Linked DNA regions of Homo sapiens: region 2 is linked to region 1. Evidence: fine-mapped expression QTL. A gene starts in region 1. The other region holds a variant in brackets. All regions are shown on one strand. Distances are between the middles of the regions.

Region 1 (8,000 bases):
GCGTGGCGGGGGGGCGGGGGGTGGGGGTGAGGGTGGACGGTGGGGGTGGGGGTGGGGCGGGGGGCGGGGGATGATTTTTGAGTCCCAGTTTCACCACTTGTTGTCTGTCTGAAGTTGAGGCAGTTACTTAACTCTCTGGGACTCAGTTTCCTCATCCATAAAATAAGAGTCATCATGAGACCTACTTCCAAGGTGTGTTGTGAGAATTAAATAATTTAAAGCAGAATCATTTGATTTAGATTCATTTGTAAAAAGTCTGGCCCATAAATATATACAAACATTATTATTGTTTTTTTTTCCTTTGAGACTGTGTCTCACTCTGTGGCTCAGGCTGGAATGCAGTGGCGTGATCTCGGCTCACTGCAGCCTCGGCCTCCTGAGGTGATTCTCCTGCCTCAGCCTCCCAAGTAGCTGGGACTACAGGCGTGCGCCACCACACCTGGCTGATTTTTGTATTTTTAGTAGAGACGGGGGTTTCACCATGATGGCCAGGCTGGTCTCGAACTCCTGGCCTCAAGTGAGGGGCTCTTTTAAACAACCTTGTTTGAGCTCCATCCCAGATCCCTCAATGCCTGCCTTGGCCTCCCAAAGTGCTGGGATTACAGGCGTGAGGCACCATGCCCAGCGGTTATTTTTTAATTTAATAAATAAATAATGTATGTTCCCTTGCTCAAATTATTTCCTCTTGCCAAGCCTTAATTTCCTCATCTAAAAAAATGGGAATAATACTGCCCACCTCCCTGGACTTGTCAGTATTAAATGAGAGAGTGTCTATAAAGCACCCAGCTTTAGGGTGTAGCACATAATGTGACTACAAGGTCAAGTGTGTAGTGCTTGGTGGGTGTTGCATCTCCTCCCGCTGTGCTGGGGAGCCCTTCCCCGACTCCTCTCCTCTCCTAGGTGTTCTCTCCCTCCCGACTCCCACAGCAGCCCTTCAAGAAGGAGGGATTCTTTCTGGGCAGATGGCTGCCTCCCAGCCTGCAGGCCCCAGAGGCAGGGCTTATGGCTTCCTTTCCCCGGCTTTTTCCTGGACTGTCTAGGGCCCCGCATCCAGCAGAACCTAAGAACTGTGCAGGCCTCACCCGATTCACCCCTGCCCTCCCTTTCCATCTCTCACTGACATATTTTCAACCACAAATATTTATTGAGTGCCCACTGCCCCGCCTGCTGTCCTTCCCCTTCCTGCTGGGTCCCTCCCCTCCACCAAGGCCTAAAGGGGTGAAGATGTCTGCAGGCAGCAGGGGGAGAAAAATGAGGCTAAGAGGAAGGACCCAAGAGAGCTCTGAAATGAGGCGGAAGCCACATCTGACTGGAAGTTTCATTCACTCAAAGCCCCACATCTTGGGTATTAAAAAGAGGCAGAGTTTTGGGATTAGGCGTAAACAGGATGAGTCACAGCTCAGTCACTCTCTCTGTGATGTTGTGACTTGCCTCTCTTTGCCTTAGTTTCCTCAAGTGTAAAATAGGGATAACAATAGCACCGGGCTTGTAAGATGTGAGAATGAAATGAGATACCCAAGACACCTTCGCAGCGTCTGTGCACACGGCAGCTTCCTAAGGAAATGGTCCCTACCTGGGACATTATACAGACGTTAATCAACGAAATGACCTGGCTTTTTTTTTTCTCTCTCTCTCCAGGACAGGACGTCCCACCCTTTCTTAGTCCGTAACGCACCTTTGGACATGATGGAATATACGAAGGGGCCTCCACCCACAGCATGACCAATCCCCAGCATCCAAAATCGCACACATACCAATATGTGCACACACACACTCACACCCACACCCATAAAGATTTTGCACTCCTTGAAGGTACACTAACTCACCATTTTTATCATACTTATCCCAGTGTGCCACAGTTACTGGCTTATATGCCTGTCTCTGCTATCTTATTTTATCTGTCTCCACAACACAGCAAACTACCTGGCCTTCAATAAAGGGCTTATGAATTATTCATGAATCCATTTTGCCAGGTGCCTAGCCCTGTGTCTGGCTTGAAGCAGGTGTTCCCAAGGTGTGGCATGGCTGAGTGAATACAAATAAAAGGTATACAAAAGCACTCAGCCCTGCCCTCCTCTCTTCTCCACGCTTACCACCTGCTCCGGTTTCCAGACCCAACATTGGCAAAGAGCACCGATGAAACCCAAAAGTTCAGGACACACCCAAGCACGTAAAGGTCAGGCACCTGGGCAGGTCAACAGTGCAGCATTTTAGCCTGGGTCTTTTGGGGGAAGAGCTTCACAAGGAGCTGCTCTCTAGCCTGACCCATTCTCCTTGTTCTGTAAGGCCCCTGCCCCCAGCCTTTGGGCTCACTTGCAGCCCTAACCTCCACGATCCCCCTCTTTGCTTTCTCCATAATAAATTCCCCTTCTAAACAAAGACTGACAGCACCACCTCCACAGCACCTGCACGGTCTCGCCTCCCCTCACCTAGCCTCACCCCTCCATCAGACTCTCCTGCTGAGGTGGACGAGGTCTTATACTTTGCTGGCATCTTGCTCCAGAAAAGGGATGCAGCTGAGCACACCCCTGCCCTTTTGCAAGCACTCCCTCCCACTTGCAGGAGGGAGAAGGGAATGGGAGGGAAGGAGAAGAGAGGGCAGGGGAGGGCAATGCTGCTCCAACAACCACACTCTGGGTGAGCCTGGGGTGCTAGGATGGCTCCACTGGGCAGGGACGCCAGTCCAGTAAGCTGGAGGCTCCTCATTTTGCCAGCAGTGAGCTCTACCTGGGACAGGGGTGTCAGTTCCCACCCTCAGGTCTGAGGCTCTGCCTGCCCAGTGAGCACCTCAGCACCCTGGACCACCCTTCCAGGCGCAGGCACCAGGGAAGGGGCAGAGGGACTAACCGACCTGTAGGGATTGAGGGTGCAGATGGTCACTGCGGGGAAGACGAGCTTGTCCGAGTTGAGGTTGATGTTGAGGCTGACGGGGTAGCTGAAGTACTCTCCGAAAAGCAGGCCGAATTGCCAGTACATCATGCCAAAGGTGCAGAGCCACAGCACTGCCCAGAAGGCCGTCTTCATGCGGTTGTGCTGGGAGCACACCAGGCGGATGGCGCCGTGGATGGTGGTGTTGTTGCAGAAGAACTCGAAGAGCTCTCGGTAGGAGCGGTGGAACTCGATCAGGGCCTCCTCCTCCGCCGTGGGCTGCTGGGGCGCCGCAGGTTCGGGGCCCAGCCCCTGCTCCTCACGCTTGTTCCCCTTCATGAGCCCTGGAGTGGACTGTGGAGGGCTAGAGTCCTGCTCCTCCAGCTTGTTCCCCTCCATGAGACCTGGTATGGGCTGCAGAGGTCTAGGGTCCTGCTCCTCCAGCTTGTTCCCCTTCATGAGCCCCGGAGTGGATTGGGGAGAGCAAGGGTCAGGGTCAAGGCTGAGCTCTGGGCCCTGAGTGCCCTCTCCCATCACCCCTGGAACCCGAGTGAGGCTGCCCCTGGCCATGCCCATGTCCCACCCTGCGCCCACATTCTCCCACTCCTCCCTCCCTCCTCCACCTTTCCTGGAGCCAGCAGACCTGCGGGAGTTGGGGCCAAAAGTGCCGGAGCTGGGCTTCCCTAGAACGGCCTCTCCTCTGCTTCCCTGATAGGGCCACCTTTCGAGTTTTGTCCTAGCACCTCCCTTTCTGTCTCTGCCCCCTTCCTTTGGTCTTCTTCCTCCAGGATCTGTGTCTCAGCTCCTGCCTCTCACTCCCTCTCTATCTGCCTTCTGTTTCTCTTTGGGTCTCTCCTGCTCTCCTCTTTCTGGCCTGCCTCCTCTCTCTAATCCTGCCTCTCTTCCTCTCCCCCCCTTGCCTTGCCCCCTCTCACTCTAGGCCCTCAGCTCCAGCCTCTGGCCCTGACCTCGAGCTGTGTCCTGATTCTGTCTCTGCCCCAGGACTGCAGGGCTCCAGGAGGTCTGGGCTGCCTCCAGCTTCCCACTCCCAGGTTGCGGCTGGACTGGGACTGGTTCCTTTCCAGTTGAATCTGGCAGCCAAACCTCTCCTCCCCCTCACCTGACAGGTGCAGCGGCCTGGCTGGGGAGCCCGCCCGCTGGCCGGCCAGGGATGGAAGCGACAGGAATCTCATTAGCATCTCAATTAAAGGTGAGCAGGGCGGGGGGAGGGGCTGAGGAGGAGTCAGAGCCGGGAGTTTTCCGAAGGAAGGAGGGCTCCCGAGGGCAGGTGAACTGGGAGTACTGGACCTGAGAAGGCGGACTCTGGGCAGGGGCTTTAGACGCAGACAGGCAAGGAGGCTGGGGGACAGGATGGCAGGTGAGGGGCAAAGATCTGAACAAGTAGAAGGATCCTGAGCCCACAGCTAGGAGGGCAACACAAGGAGAAGGGGCCAGCCAGGCTGAGAGGGCCTGGGTGGGGAACCGGGAGGACAGGAGGGCAGAAAGAGGGAGACAATAGAGAGGGACAGCGAAGGACAGAGAGATAGGGATGGAGGAGGGGCACTGAGTGAGTAGAGGCAGGTGGGGGGCAGTGGTGGGGGCAAATAGAAGGAGCCAGCACCAAAGGGAGTCTGTCTCCAGGAAGGAGAGCAAGGGGGGAGTCCCAAGTGTGCTTCCAGGAGCTAGAGGCTCAGCAAGTGGGCAGCCCTCCAAGGGCACCCACAGGTCAGCCTCACCCTCAGGCCCTGCAGAGAAGAGAGAAGAGGTCTCTGCAGGTCTCCTCCCCGCTCACTAAGTGGGAGCAGCGCACTCAGGTGGGATGCGTCTGCCTCCTCCTGGTCCCTCCTCTTTCCTGCTGATTCCTCGCCACCCCCTCCAACCTTGTCCAGACCCGGGAGGGGCCCAGGTGAAGCTGGGGGCTAGGCGGGGCCCTAGGACATTCTGTTCTTTTTTACACTGTTGGCTGCCAGGCCAGGAATGTGTAATCGCCCCTGCTGTGGTCACAGAGTTGCAGGAATGTGGGCAACCAGAGGCAGCGCGAGGGCCACGCAGGACACTGTGGACACAGACCCGGAGCCCAGGAAGAGGCAGGGAAAGCAGGCACTGAAGGTGCAGGGAGGATGTGGCCAGCGCTGGAAAGGAAGAGGGTGGGCATGGCACACGCCTAGACAGGCCCTGGGAGGAGGAGAAATTCGTTGATGGGCTATATTTTCTCCAAAATCTCTTTCCAAACTTAATGCAGCAAAAGGATAAGGAGTGGAGTGCCAAGTGGTGAGCAAGGAGAGAGAGGAGGGTCAGAGAATCAGACCCAAAAAGGGCTGGAGGAGACTCGGGAGAGCCACCCACACAACCCAGGCCCTGCACGCGGCAGGGAAGGCTGCCGCTTCCTCACGGGCCCCACAGGAGGCAGCCCAGAGTGCAGGAATGTGGTCACTGGCTTGTCCTGCCTCCCTCCACAAGCCAGCAGACAAAGGCCCAGCCTGAGCATTGATACACACCGGGGGAGGAGATAGGCCTGCAATACAATAAGATAAGGTTTCTATTTGTACACTTTAAAAGATTGTCTTTAAAACGGACTTCTAACAAAAGTGCAGATCTCAGATTTCTCAGAGATAAGACATAAGAGCCAAGGGCTAGGGGAGCCTAGGGGCTCACTGCAGGAGACTCAGGAAGCCTTCCCAGAGAAGGTGTCATCTCTGCTGAATCTTGACAAGCAAGGAGTTTAGCAGGCAAAGAAGAGAAAAGGCAGTACTCCAGGCTCAGGGTCCAACCTGGTCTGTGGCTTCCTCTCTTGCGGCAGTCTCTTGCGACTTCTTAAAGTGAAAGCCGGTGTCAACCAGGATTCCAAACCAGGTTCCCTTGCTTACCTTGATACTGCTCATGATACCTCCCCTTGGAAGGGACAGCTGGATTTTTCTTCATTGTCCTAATGAAGAAACTGACCCTTCCCAAGGATAAATCAGTTTTCTGAGGTTAGAAAACAAAATAGGAGCAGAGCTATAAACAGAATTCAGAATTCTCCTCCTCCTCTGGGGCTATCTACTTAGCGCTTTTGCCATTTACTTCCTGAGACAGACTCATGGGGGATCGGGGCTCAGGTGCACCTGGATGTGAAAGCCGGGAAGGCCTCCCTCACTCCCACACAGAGCCCGTGGATTCGTCTGCTCTCTGGGTGCTGGGTTATCTCCTTGGCTCTGTGAAAAGGTCTCTGCACTGTCCCCACTGCCCCACATATCCCAGAGACCCCTAGAAACTCCAGTCTCCCTTGAGCCAGGTCCTTACATTGGGCATGGTCCTCCCTGCAATAAGGTGCTCAGCACCCTGGCTGTTTGATCTCAAAGGTTCTGAAAAGCACCTCCCTGCCTTTTCTATTTGCCAGCTCATGCCTGAAATCCAACCACTAGCTTAAGGCAGCATGGCAAATAGTTTTCATATCAAGGGCTCTGTGAGAAGAATTGCAATGCCTGGTCTGGGCTGAGCCAAAGGGTGGTGACCCTGCCACGTCCTGCCGGGTATGGGAGTGGCAATGCGAGCCTAGTGCTGCAGCATTCTAGACCTGGAGCGGGCTAGAACAGGCTTGGTGTTGTGAGGAAAATAGAAATCTGAGACCTGGACTTTGGTCAGAAGTCCATTTTAAAGATGATCTTTTAAAGTGTACAAATAATACACAAATATGTTTTTGTCACAGTACAATTTTTCAGCAATACAGAAGTATATAGAGCTTCCCTTAGTCCCCTTCCTTTCCCTCCCCAAAGGGGAGCCACCATAATTTGTATATCTGTCTATATCTTTTTGTGTGCCTTTATAAACTTACATGTATTTTTAAAAAACAAAATATATAGTTCTTTTTTATGACAGAGACCATGCTATAGGTATGTTTCTACAACTTCCATTTTTGCTTTTATTTTCTTATTTATCTTAGAGACAGGATCATGCACTATCCTCTAGGCTGGAGTACAGCAGCATGATCATGGCTCACTGCAGCCTCCAACTCCTAGGCTCAAGCAGTCCTCCTGCCTCAGCCTCCCAAAGTGCTGGGATTACAAGTGTGAGCCACCATACTCAGCCCCTATTTTTGCTTTTAAACTATGTGACTTTGAGAAAGGCACTTGACCTCTATGGGCCCCGGTGATCTTACCTGAGAAAATGAAAGGGCAAGAAGGGGTGGGTAAGGCAACCCAGATGGACAAAGACTTTTTCCAGCTGACCTTGCATCTAGCCCCCTGCTTCATGCATGAGGGGACTGAGGCCCACAGAAGCAAAGTGACTTGGCCACAGTCACCCAGGAGTTAGGGGTGGGGTCAGACTGAAAACCAGGCCACTCCTTTCCAAGCCCAGTTCTCCTTCTCTGACTTTGAGAGAAGTACAGTTTTGTTCTATAAGAAGTCAAGAGCTTTGTAGACTCTGTCTTGGAAGGACCCCCTGCCTTCCCAGGACTACCCCCAGACTCCCCCAGAGCCCCAGCCCTTCCCGCCAACCCAGGGCTGCCTTCCCCTCCCAACACCAGCTATCCTCTAACCCTGTGGTGTGGCCATAAAATATGCACGGCTGCAGGGAGAGAAGTGAAACCAGAGGGGCTGCCATGGGATGAGGGTTATGAGTGCAAAGGGTCTTCCTGCCTCTTGTTCTCCGCGGACAGGAGATGACGGAAGTAATCACTCCACCCTCCTAGGGAGAGCCTATCTCTGCACTTACCACTGTTTACTATTATTTATTATTATTATTTACTATTATCCTGATGTATGTGTGTTTGTACGTATACATCCGTTTGGGGTCCCTGACTTCCCGCAACACAAGGACAGAGACCAGGCGTATTCATCTTGGTGACCTCAGTGTCTAGCGGTCACTGTTTGCTGACCCAGTCTGCAGAAGACAGCAGAACTGGCGTCTTTCCTAGTTTATCTTTGACAGAGCGGGATATGCTACGAAAAAGCATCTGCAAAACTTCAAACATCCTAACTTCCTCTGACAACCCATTTATTTGTGGTCTATTAATTTATCTAAATTTTCTTCACTTTTCCCTGTTCACTTCTATCCTTTCCAGGATAAGAATCAGTTACTTAGTTAAATGCAACTCTTTATTCTTACTACTTGGAGCTAATTAGCCACTTCACACTGGGGGCTGCCCACTG
Region 2 (10,356 bases), 230 kb before region 1:
CTGGCCCACCGGCGCTGCGCTCGATTTCTCGCCGGGCCTTAGCTGCCTTCCCGCGGGGCAGGGCTCGGGACCTGCAGCCTGCCATGCCTGAGCCTCCCACCCACTCCATGGGCTCCCGTGTGGCCCAAGCCTCCCCGACGAGCACCACCCCCTGCTCCACGGCGCCCAGTCCCATCGACCACCCAAGAGCTGAGGAATGAGAGCGCACAGCGCGGGACTGGCAGGCAGCTCCACCTGCAGCCCCAGGTGCGGGATCCACTAGGTGAAGCCAGCTGGGCTCCTGAGTCTGGTGGGGACGTGGAGAGTTTTTATATCTAGCTCAGGGATTGTAAACACACCAATCAGCACCCTGTGTCTAGCTCAAGATTTGTGAGTGCACCAATCGACACTCTGTATCTAGCTGCTCTGCTGGGGCCTTGGACAACCTCTGTGTGGAAACTCTGTATCTAACTAATCTGATGGGGACGTGGAGAACCTTTGTATCTAGCTCAAGGATTGTAAACGCACCAATCAGCGCCCTGTTAAAACAGGCCACTCGGCTCTACCAATCAGCAGCATGTGGGTGGGGCCAGATAAGAGAATAAAAGCAGGCTGCCGGAGCCAGCATTGGCAACCCGCTCCGGTCCCCTTCCACAGTGTGAAGGCTTCGTTCTTTTGCTCTTTGCAATAAATCTTGCTATTGCTCACTCTGGGTGCACACTGCTTTTAAGATCTGTAACTCTCACCGTGAAGATCTGCAGCTTCACTCCTGAGGCCAGCAAAACCACGAGCCCACCGGGAGGAACGAACAACTCCAGATGCACTGCCTTAAGAGTGGTAACGCCCACCGCAAAGGTCTGCAGCTTCAATCCTGAGCCAGGGAGATCATGAACCCACCAGAAGGAAGAAACTCTGAACACATCTGAAAGTCAGAAGACACAGACTCCAGATGTGCCACTTTAAGAGCTGTTAACTACGAGGGTCTGTGGCTTCATTCTTGAAGTCAGTGAGACCAAGAACCCACCAATTCCAGACGCAGTATGGGTTATTCAGAAATTTCTAGAAAAATGGTGGTAACTTTCACGTGGTTGCCATGAAAAGAGGTGGTAACTTCTGTGTGTTGCCATGGCAATGGTAAACTGACATGGAATTGGTTGTCAGGTCTTTCCCCCCCCCCCCCCCCCCCAGCTGGAGTCTTGCTCTGTCTCATAGGCTAGAGTGCAATGGTGCAATCTCAGCTCACTGCAACATCTGTCTCCCAGGTTCAAGTGATTCTCTGGCCTCGGCCTCCTGAGTAGCTGGGATTACAGGTGCCCACCACCACGCCCTACTAATTTTTGTATTTTTAGTAGAGATGGGGTTTCACCATGTTGGCCAGGCTGGTCTCAAACTCTTGACCTCAAGTGGTCCGCCCACCTCTACCTCCCAAAGTGCTACGATTACAGGCGGGAGCCACCATGCCCAGCCAACTGGTGGGCATGTCATGGAGAGGTGTTTTCCCCGCCTCTTCCCTGTTTCAGCCAATCTTCAATCTGGTCCAGAGTAAGATCCTGCCTCCTACCTCAGCACCACTGCATTCCAGCCTGGACAACAGAGTAAGACCCTGTCTCAAAAAGCAAACAAACGGGCTGGCCCGGTGGCTCACACCTGTAATCCCAGCACTTTGGCAGGCCGAGGTGGGCGGATCACTTGAGGTCAGGAGTTCGAGACAAGCCTGGCCAACATGGTAAAACCCCATCTCTACTAAAAATACAAAAAAAAAAAAATTAGCTAGGCATTTTGGCGTGCACCTGTAATCCCAGCTACTTGGGAGGCTGAGGAAGGAGAACTGCTTGAACCTGGGAGGCGGAGGTTGCAGTGAGCCAAGATAGTGCCACTACACTCCAGAACGGGTGACTGAGTGAGACTCTGTCTCAAACAAAAACAAAAAACAATGGTTAAACCCTATTATTGCATTTTTGGGCATTTATGCCAGAGAAATCTAAATAGTTTCATGTTAAATATTGTACGTGAATGTTCACAGAAGGTTTTTTTTTTTTTTTTTGAGAGAGAATCTCGCTCTGTCACCCAGGCTGGAGTGCAGTGGCGCGATCTCGGTTCATGCCATTCTCCTGCCTCAGCCTCCTGCGTAGCTGGGACTACAGGCACCCGCCACCACCATGCCCGGCTAATTTTTTGTATTTTTAGTAGACACGGGTTTTCACCGTGTTAGCCAGGATGGTCTCGATCTCCTAGCCTCGTGATCCGCCCGCCTCGGCCTCTCAAAGTGTTGGGATTACAGGCGTGAGCCACCGCGCCCGGCCAAATGTTCACAGAAGCTTTATTTGCAATGACAAAAACTGGAAGAGGCTGGGCGCGGTGGCTCATGCTTGTAATCCCAGCACTTTGGGAGGCCGAGGCGGGCGGGTCACGAGGTCAGGAAATCCAGACCATTCTGGCTAACACGGTGAAACCCCGTCTCTACTAAAACTATAAAAAATTAGCTGGGCGTGGTGGCGGGCGCCTGTAGTCCCAGCTACTCGGGAGGCTGAGGCAGGAGAATGGCGTGAACCCGGGAGGCGGAGCTTGCAGTGAGCCGAGATCGCGTCACTGCACTCCAGCCTGGGCGACAGACGGAGACTCCGTCTCAAAAAAAAAAAAAGAGAACAAATTACTGATACACGCAACGTGGATGAATCTCCAGGGAATTATGCTGAGTGAAAAACAGCCAATCCCCAAAGGTTATATCCTGTATAATTTCATTTATATAAATTACAGAAATGGAGAACAGATTAGGGCTAGGGACAGGGGAGAGGCTGAGGGACTATGAGAGGAGTGTGGTTGTGTTTATAATGAAACCGACCCAATCATCCCATAGATAGGTTTTTTTTTTTTTTTTGGATAAGCATCGAAATTGACTTTTCTAGTCTTTGTTTTCTAGTCTTTTTTTTTTTTTTTTTTTCTTTTTTTGAGACGGAGTCTCGCTCTGTCGCCCAGGCTGGAGGGCAGAGGCGCGATCTCAGCTCACTGCAAGCTCCGCCTCCCGGGTTCACGCCATTCTCCTGCCTCAGCCTCCCGAGTAGCTGGGATTACAGGCGCCTGCCACCACGCCCGGGTAATTGTTTGTATTTTTAGTAGAGATGGGGTTTCACCGTCTTTGCCAGGGTGGTCTCGATCCCTGACCTCGTGATCCTCCTGCCTCGGCCTCCCAAAGTGCTGGGATTACAGGCGTGAGCCACCGCGCCCGGCCTTTTTTCTAGTCTTAAAGCCACCACGCCCGGCCTTTTTTCTAGTCTTAAAGCTTGAAAAACTTAATTTGTTTTATCTGAGTTCCCTCCTCAGGAAAAGACCTTCAGGCCTCTAAAAAAAAGTATCAAAGAACTGAAACTCACCAGATCACCACATCCAGACAAGGAAATGCCCAGACCCCTCATTCATCATGATTGTTTCCTTGCCCCTCCCTAGTTCCTGTTTTCGTAGGCATTGTTACATTTCTTCCCTGCTACATAAACCCTTACTTTTTGTAGGTCAGGGAGATGGGTTTGAGACTGGGCTCCCATCTCCACTCCTCAGCTGCAGGATTAAAGATTTTTTTCTGGCCAGGTGCAGCGGCTCATGCCTCTAATCCCAACACTTTGGGAGGCTGAGGCAGGCAGATCACCTGAGGTCAGGAGTTCGAGACCAGCCTGACCATCATGGAGAAACCTCGTCTCTACTAAAAATACAAAATTAGCCGGGCATGGTGGAGATGCCTATAATCCCAGCTACTCAGGAGGCTGAGGCAGGAGAATTGCTGGAACCCGGGAGGCAGAAGTTGCGGTGAAGCGAGGTCACGCCACCGCACTCCAGCCTGGGCAACAGAAAGAGACTCACTCTCAAATAAATACATACAGACAGACAGACACCAGCATGACATTACATAGTGTAGCACAGCTTTGCCTAAAGGGAGGGGAAAAAAGGTGCAAACACCAGGCTAATTCAGAGAGGAGACTTCTCTTGCTGGGTGTCTCATTCCCAGCACCCTCATCCAGAAACCTAAATTCAGAATCCCTGCTACCTAGATTTCCCGGACCTACTCTACAACCGCTAGTATTTATTTGGTATCTGGGCTAGGCTCTTGGGATATGAAGGTGAGTGAAAAAACACACCATTCTCTGCCCTCATGGAGCTTATGATCTGTTGACAGGACCGACATTAATCCAAACAAATTATAACTACAAACAGTGATGAGAGTAAGACACGTGGTGCCAGGGAGGCATACAAGTAATAGATTCCCACCCAAACTGAGAGGGCCGGGGGGTGTGGGCAGAGAAGTCCTCCCTGAAGAGGTACAACTGAACTGAGTTCTATGGGATGAGTAGGAGTAAAGCCAGGCAAAGGTTGGTGGGCACACTTCAGGCCATGGGAATAGCACGTGCAAAGGCCCAGCTGCAGGAGGAGGCTACCTACCAAGACACTGAAAGACAGTCTGTGGCTGCAACACAGATCAGGGGAAGCATGGTGGACGACAGGGCTGGAGAGGTAGGAAGGGGTCAGATGAAACGTTACTCCTTTCTGCGATGCATTTTGGTTTTCAGGGCAATTTCCCAGACCAGACTTCATTAGAGCCTTACGCTACCACCATGAGTTAGCAAGAGCAGGCAGTATTGTTCCCAATTTGCACATGAAGAAGTGAATGCTCAGCAAAGTTGTCAGAGGCATTCGAACCAGAATGACTCCATTTTGAGTGAGGACTAGGAAAATGAGGCTGAGACTTGCTGGGCTGCATTCTCAGAAAGTTAGGCATTATTAGCCTCTGCATGTTTACAGTTAAGGGAACAAATTAATCGTGTTTACTGAACAGGCCCAGACTTGGGAGTGTCCAGATAACCTGGTACAAAGGTATTCCTTTTTTTTTTTTTTTTTTGAGACGGAGTCTTACTCTGTTGACCAGGCAGGAGTGCAGTGGCACGATGTCGGCTCACTGCAAACTCTGCCTCCCAGATTCAAGCAATTCCCTGCCCCAGCCTTCCAAGTAGCTGGGATTACAGGCGCCCACCACCACACCCGGCTAATTTTTGTATTTTTAGTAGAGACAGGGTTTCGCCATGTTGGCCAGGCTGGTATTGAACTCCTGACCTCATGATCCACCCACCTCAACCTCCTAAAGTGCTGGGATTACAGGCGTGAGCCACTGTGCCCAGCTGAACAAAGGTATTCCTAATTTTGCTTTAAAGATAATAATATCAATTCCTGCAAAATATAGTAATTAAGAAAATTAATCCTTTATCACAAACCTTGTAGCAGAGCACATCTCCCCATATATACAAGCATTGTACGTAGGTTGGATGCGTTCCTCCTCTTACTTTCGGGAACGTCCTACTGTGTCTATGGAGTGGATGTTCTTTCACCACTTTACTTCCTTAATAAACTTGCTTTGCCTTTGCACTGCGGACTCACCCTGAATTCTTCCTTGCTCGAGATCCAAGAACCCTCTCTTGGGGTCTGGATCGGGACCCCCTTTCCTGTAACATATTTCTGGCGAACACAGAAGGCACTATAGTACAGAAACCCTGACCCAACGGCTACCTTTGGGTAAATGGTGGAGTCCTGTAACAAAGTGACTTGCCAGAGGCCACGCAGCGAGGGAGTCAAACAGCCTATGCTTACTCCTTGCCCTCCAACTCCTGGCCCAGTGCTCTCTGCTCCCACTGCCTATTCCTGATCCTGTTCAGTCTTCCTTATGGTTCAGCTCCCAAATCCCAAAGTGAAGGCATCAGGTCTCACAGTTGGAAAGGACTTTAGGGAAGGACACCTCTTCTAGGATTCTCCCAATTTGCATCTTGCAAAACTGAAGGACCCCAGGGTCTCTGGCTGAGCTCTTCCTGATTTACTCTAAGATACAAGCAAAATCCTTTTAGTTCAGACTTGATTGGTGGGGAAAGGCCTTGGGATGATGTGAGCTGGACCAAGCAATCCCTGCCTATAATTTCATTAGT[C/T]CACAGTTCCAGGCTTCTACTTTGAGACACAGAAAATTTCTCTTGTGAACCAGGCCACATCCTCTCACAGGAGGCTTTTACTCACACATTCACACGCCGTGAGAACTTTCTCCTTGTCTCTGTGCCTTCCTGAAACATAAGTATCATTAACTATTTAAAATGGACTTTCATACTACAGATGGTGAGTTGATTTAAGGAAAATACACTTATCTTATTCCTCTTCCTCAAATACTACAGGACAAAGTTTTCTGTTGTTCTAAATTTTTGGCTTCTCTCTGTGAAACTGAATTACCTGCTATAATTTGCACAGAAAATGTAATGCATCCCCCACTGTGGGCCTTGAGCAAGCTGCCACCTTCAAGCACCTTCAAGCCATTCACCAAGGATGGAACCTCTTGCTCAAAGAAGAAAGCCAAAGTGTTTAAGATACTGACCTGTAGCAAGCAAACAGTGAGACATAATCACACTCTTGACTTGAACTAATAGCGTATATATTTTATCACAAATCTTGGAAATGACAGAAGTCTTGGGCTGGGCGCAGTGGCTCATGCCTGTAATCCCAGCACGTGGGGAGGCCGAGGCGCGCGATCACCTGAGGTCAGAAGTTTGAGACCAGCCCGGCCAACATGGTGAAACCCTGTCTCTACTAAAAATACGAAAATTAGCTGGGCGTGGTGGCTGGCGTCTGTAATCCCAGCTACTCAGGAGGCTGAGGCAGAAGAACTGCTTGAACCCAGGAGGCGGAGGTTGCAGTGAGTGGAGATTGCGCCATTGCACTCTAGCCTGCGCGGCAGAGCAAGACTCCATCTCAAAAAAGAAAAAAGAAAAAAAAAAGTCTCAGATAGAGTCCTGGAGGTCTGAGGCTCTATCTGCTTCCTCCTCCATCTTGAGAAAGTGACTGACCCTCTCTGGCACTCTTTTACCCAAAGTAGCCAGGGTGTGTGTGGTTTGTAATTTTTTTTTTTTTTTTTTTTTTTTTGAGACGGAGTCTCACACTGTCGCCCAGGCTGGAGTGTAGTGGCGAGATCTCGGCTCACTGCAAGCTCCGCCTTCTGGGTTCCTGCCATTCTCCTGCCTCAGCCTCCCAAGTAGCTACGACTACAGGCGCCCGCCACCATGCCCGGCTAATTTTTTGTATTTTGTTTAGGGGAGACGGGGTTTCACCGTGTTAGCCAGGATGGTCTAGATCTCCTGACCTCGTGATCCGCCCACTTCGGCCTCCCAAAGTGCTGGGATTACAGGCGTGAGCCACCGCATCCAGTCGTGTGTGTGTAATTCTTATCTGTGTTTTTAAATGTGGATTTCCAGCTTCACTTGGAAGACTGGAAGTTGTTGGAAAGGCGGGTCTTCTCTCTTGGGATGGGCATGTTCTCTCCAGTTTCCAGTCCCTTCTACACCCTATCACATCTCCAACATGAGGTCCAAACCAGTTGTCATTTATCTTTTTACTTACTTCGTCTTTTTATTGAAGTACAAAAACATTTCTTTGTAGCACTTCTCTATCAAGAGGGGAAAAAAATAAGACACACCAAGACAGCTGTAAGTTTCAAGAAAAATAAGAGGCCGGATTCTTTGTAGAAGCTGAAGAATATTCCTCTGCAATTGGTTGGCTTCCTCAGTGGTTCGGCTTCAGGATCCCGCAGAGGTTGGCTAAGGCCCAGTCAGCCAAAGGCGCCAGCACGACTGGGACTGGAAGATCCACTTCCAAGACGGCTCATGCACGGTGCTGCCCAGCTGGTGCTGTAGCTGGCAGGAGGCCTGGATTCCCTGCTGCACTGGGTGACCAGATTTTCCCAGAGCAAGAGTCCAAGAGAGAGAAAAATGAAAGATACAAGGTTTTTTTATGATCTGGCCTCAGGAGTCTTATTTCCACAATATCCTATTGGTTATACAAGTCAGCCCTACTCAACATCAGACTACACAAGGGTGGGACTGGTGAAATAAGATTCACTGGAGGGCTATCTTGAAAGGTGGATACCACATAATTCCATGACGTTTATAAACGACATACCTAAAATATAAGGACATGAAAGTGTTTGAAGCAAAGCTGGAGTAGTTGTTAGTAATATGGGACAAAATAGACTTTGGGGAAATAAAGCATTATTATGGCTAGAGAATGACATTAAATAATGACAAAAAATACAATCTACTAAGATTATTATAAACCTAGTAAAATAAGAAGATATGATTATAAAACTAAAAAATAAGCTTAATAAAATAGGTTTAAAATATATAAATTATAAAAATTAAAAGAACCCAGGGAGAAGTTGCCATATTTGCCATCATAGTGGGAGATGTCAACACACCTCTCTCCGTTACTGTTAGATCAAAGAGACAAAAAATTAGAAAAGACAGAAAATTTGCACAATACAATTAATCAGCTTGATTTATTGGGCATAGATAGAATTCTCTACCCAGCAATTAGGGATGACACATTTGGAACATATATAAAAACTGACCAGGCCGGGCGCGGTGGCTCACGCCTCTAATCCCAGCACTTTGGGAGGCCAAGGCAGGTGGATCACGAGGTCAGGAGATCGAGACCATCCTGGCTAACGCGGTGAAACCCCGTCTCTACTAAAAATACAAAAAAATTAGCCGGGCATGGTGACAGGCGACTGTAGTCCCAGCTACTCAGAAGGCTGAGGCAGGAGAATGGCATGAACCCAGGAGGTGGAGCTTGCAGTGAGCCGAGATCACGCCACTGCACTCCATCCTGGGCGACAGAGTGAGACTGTCTAAAACAAAACAAAACAAAACAAAAATAAACAAAAAAAAACTGCCTAAGTACTAAACCACAAAGCAATTCTCAACAGATTTCAAAGAATCAGTATCAATGTGTTTCCCTGCATAATACATTTAATTAGAAGCAAATAACAAAATATAATTATGTTTTATTCCCATATGGCTAGAAACTTCTAAATATATTTCCAATTCATGGTCAAAGAAGAAATCATCATGAAAAATGTAAAATTCAGTCTATTCTGCTATAATGCATATAAAATGCAGAATATTATCAGTTTAATATGAAAGTCATATTAGTTCCTATTATGAACTAATACATAGGTGCAAACTTTCTGATAATTGAAGAAACCTTTAAAAACATTTTTTTTTTGAGACGGAGTTTCGCTCTGTCGCCCAGGCTGGAGTGCAGTGGCGTGATCTTGGCTCACTGCAAGCTCCGCCTCCCGGGTTCACACCATTCTCCTGCCTCAGCCTCCCGAGTAGCTGGGACTACAGGCGCTCGCCACCACGCCCGGCTAATTTTTTGTATTTTTAGTAGAGATGGGGTTTCACCGTGTTAGCCAGGATGATCTTGATATCCTGACCTCATGATCCACCCACCTCAGCCTCCTAAAGTGCTGGGATTACAGACGTGAGCCACCACGCCTGGTAAATACATTTTTAAAAGCCAAAAATTTTTCACAGTTGATCTTCTTTCATGCATATAATGGCTGGTGTAGGGCCTTGAGAACTGCTAGACTTCCTACTATGTGAAGGTATCTACAGAAGCTTCAAATATAGGTCAAGAAGCAATGAAGGTATTTCTGTTTTACCCTGATGTATTAAAAAATCAAGAAATCTAGTTACTAGATCATGTTTTTAGTTTTGTTTGTTTGTTTGAGATGGAGTCTCGTCCCGTGGCCCAGGCTGGAGCGATATGGTGCAATCTCAGCTCACTACAATCTCCACCTCCCAGGTTCAAGGAATTCTCCTGCCTCAGCCTCCCAAGTAGCTGGGATTACAGGTGCCCGCCACCATGTCCAGCTAATTTTTTTTCTTTAGTAAAGATGGGGTTTCACCATGTTGGCCATGCTGGTCTCGAACTCCTGACCTCGTGATCTGCCCTCCTCAGCAATCCAAAGTGCTGGGATTACAGGCGTGAGCCACCCCGCCCTGCCTATGTTTTTAGTTTTAATGAAATTAATCACTATTAGAAACAAATGCCCTCAAAGACCTATTTCTCAAAGCTGGAATCGTAAATCTCAGGACTCAAAACTACAAAGAATTGACTGACGATGGTGCTGATGAAGGGATACTGGTCAAAACTTAATCACATGGCCATATCTACCTATGAGGGAGGCTGGGAAATATAATCTTCAGTTTTGTATCCAGCTAAAAACTGGGGTTTTGTTGTTAAAAGTTAGAAGGCCAGAATAACCATTAGAGAACCATCAGTGGACTCTGCCACAAAGAAAATTAGCTTTAATTCAGATGATGTCTCCAATACAATTTTGACTCCAAAACCAGACATGAGCAGTATAAGAAAAAGAAAATCCCTGGCAAAACTTACTCATGAACATAGGTGCAAAAGTCCTAAACAAAATACTCGCAAGTGAATCCAACCGTTTTATTAAAAAAGAGAGTGCGTTATGACCAAGTTTTATTTATTCCAGAAATTTAGGGTGGTTTTCACATT

The links. PIP is the estimated chance that this variant, and not a neighbour inherited with it, causes the effect.
Region 2: its variant is fine-mapped to the expression of SCNN1A in pancreas (GTEx, PIP above 0.99).

The regions. Positions count from the first base shown.
Region 1 is chr12:6,371,517-6,379,516 of GRCh38, forward strand. SCNN1A (sodium channel epithelial 1 subunit alpha) reads right to left here and starts at 4,047. Exons shown (of 13, transcript NM_001038.6): 1 at 3,989-4,047; 2 at 2,852-3,321. The coding sequence starts at 3,267. LOC105369626 (a long non-coding RNA gene) reads left to right here. Exons shown (of 4, transcript XR_931591.3): 4 at 1,639-2,059. It also overlaps a transcript of LTBR not described here. RefSeq lists enhancers at 2,454-3,058, 4,875-5,479.
Region 2 is chr12:6,142,380-6,152,735 of GRCh38, forward strand. It overlaps LOC124902866 (a long non-coding RNA gene), which reads right to left. Exons shown (of 2, transcript XR_007063189.1): 2 at 7,373-7,706. Among named protein-coding and RNA genes, the nearest start is that of VWF, 23 kb to the left of the region's middle. RefSeq lists an enhancer at 1-525. The variant C/T (reference allele first, on the strand shown) is at 5,937.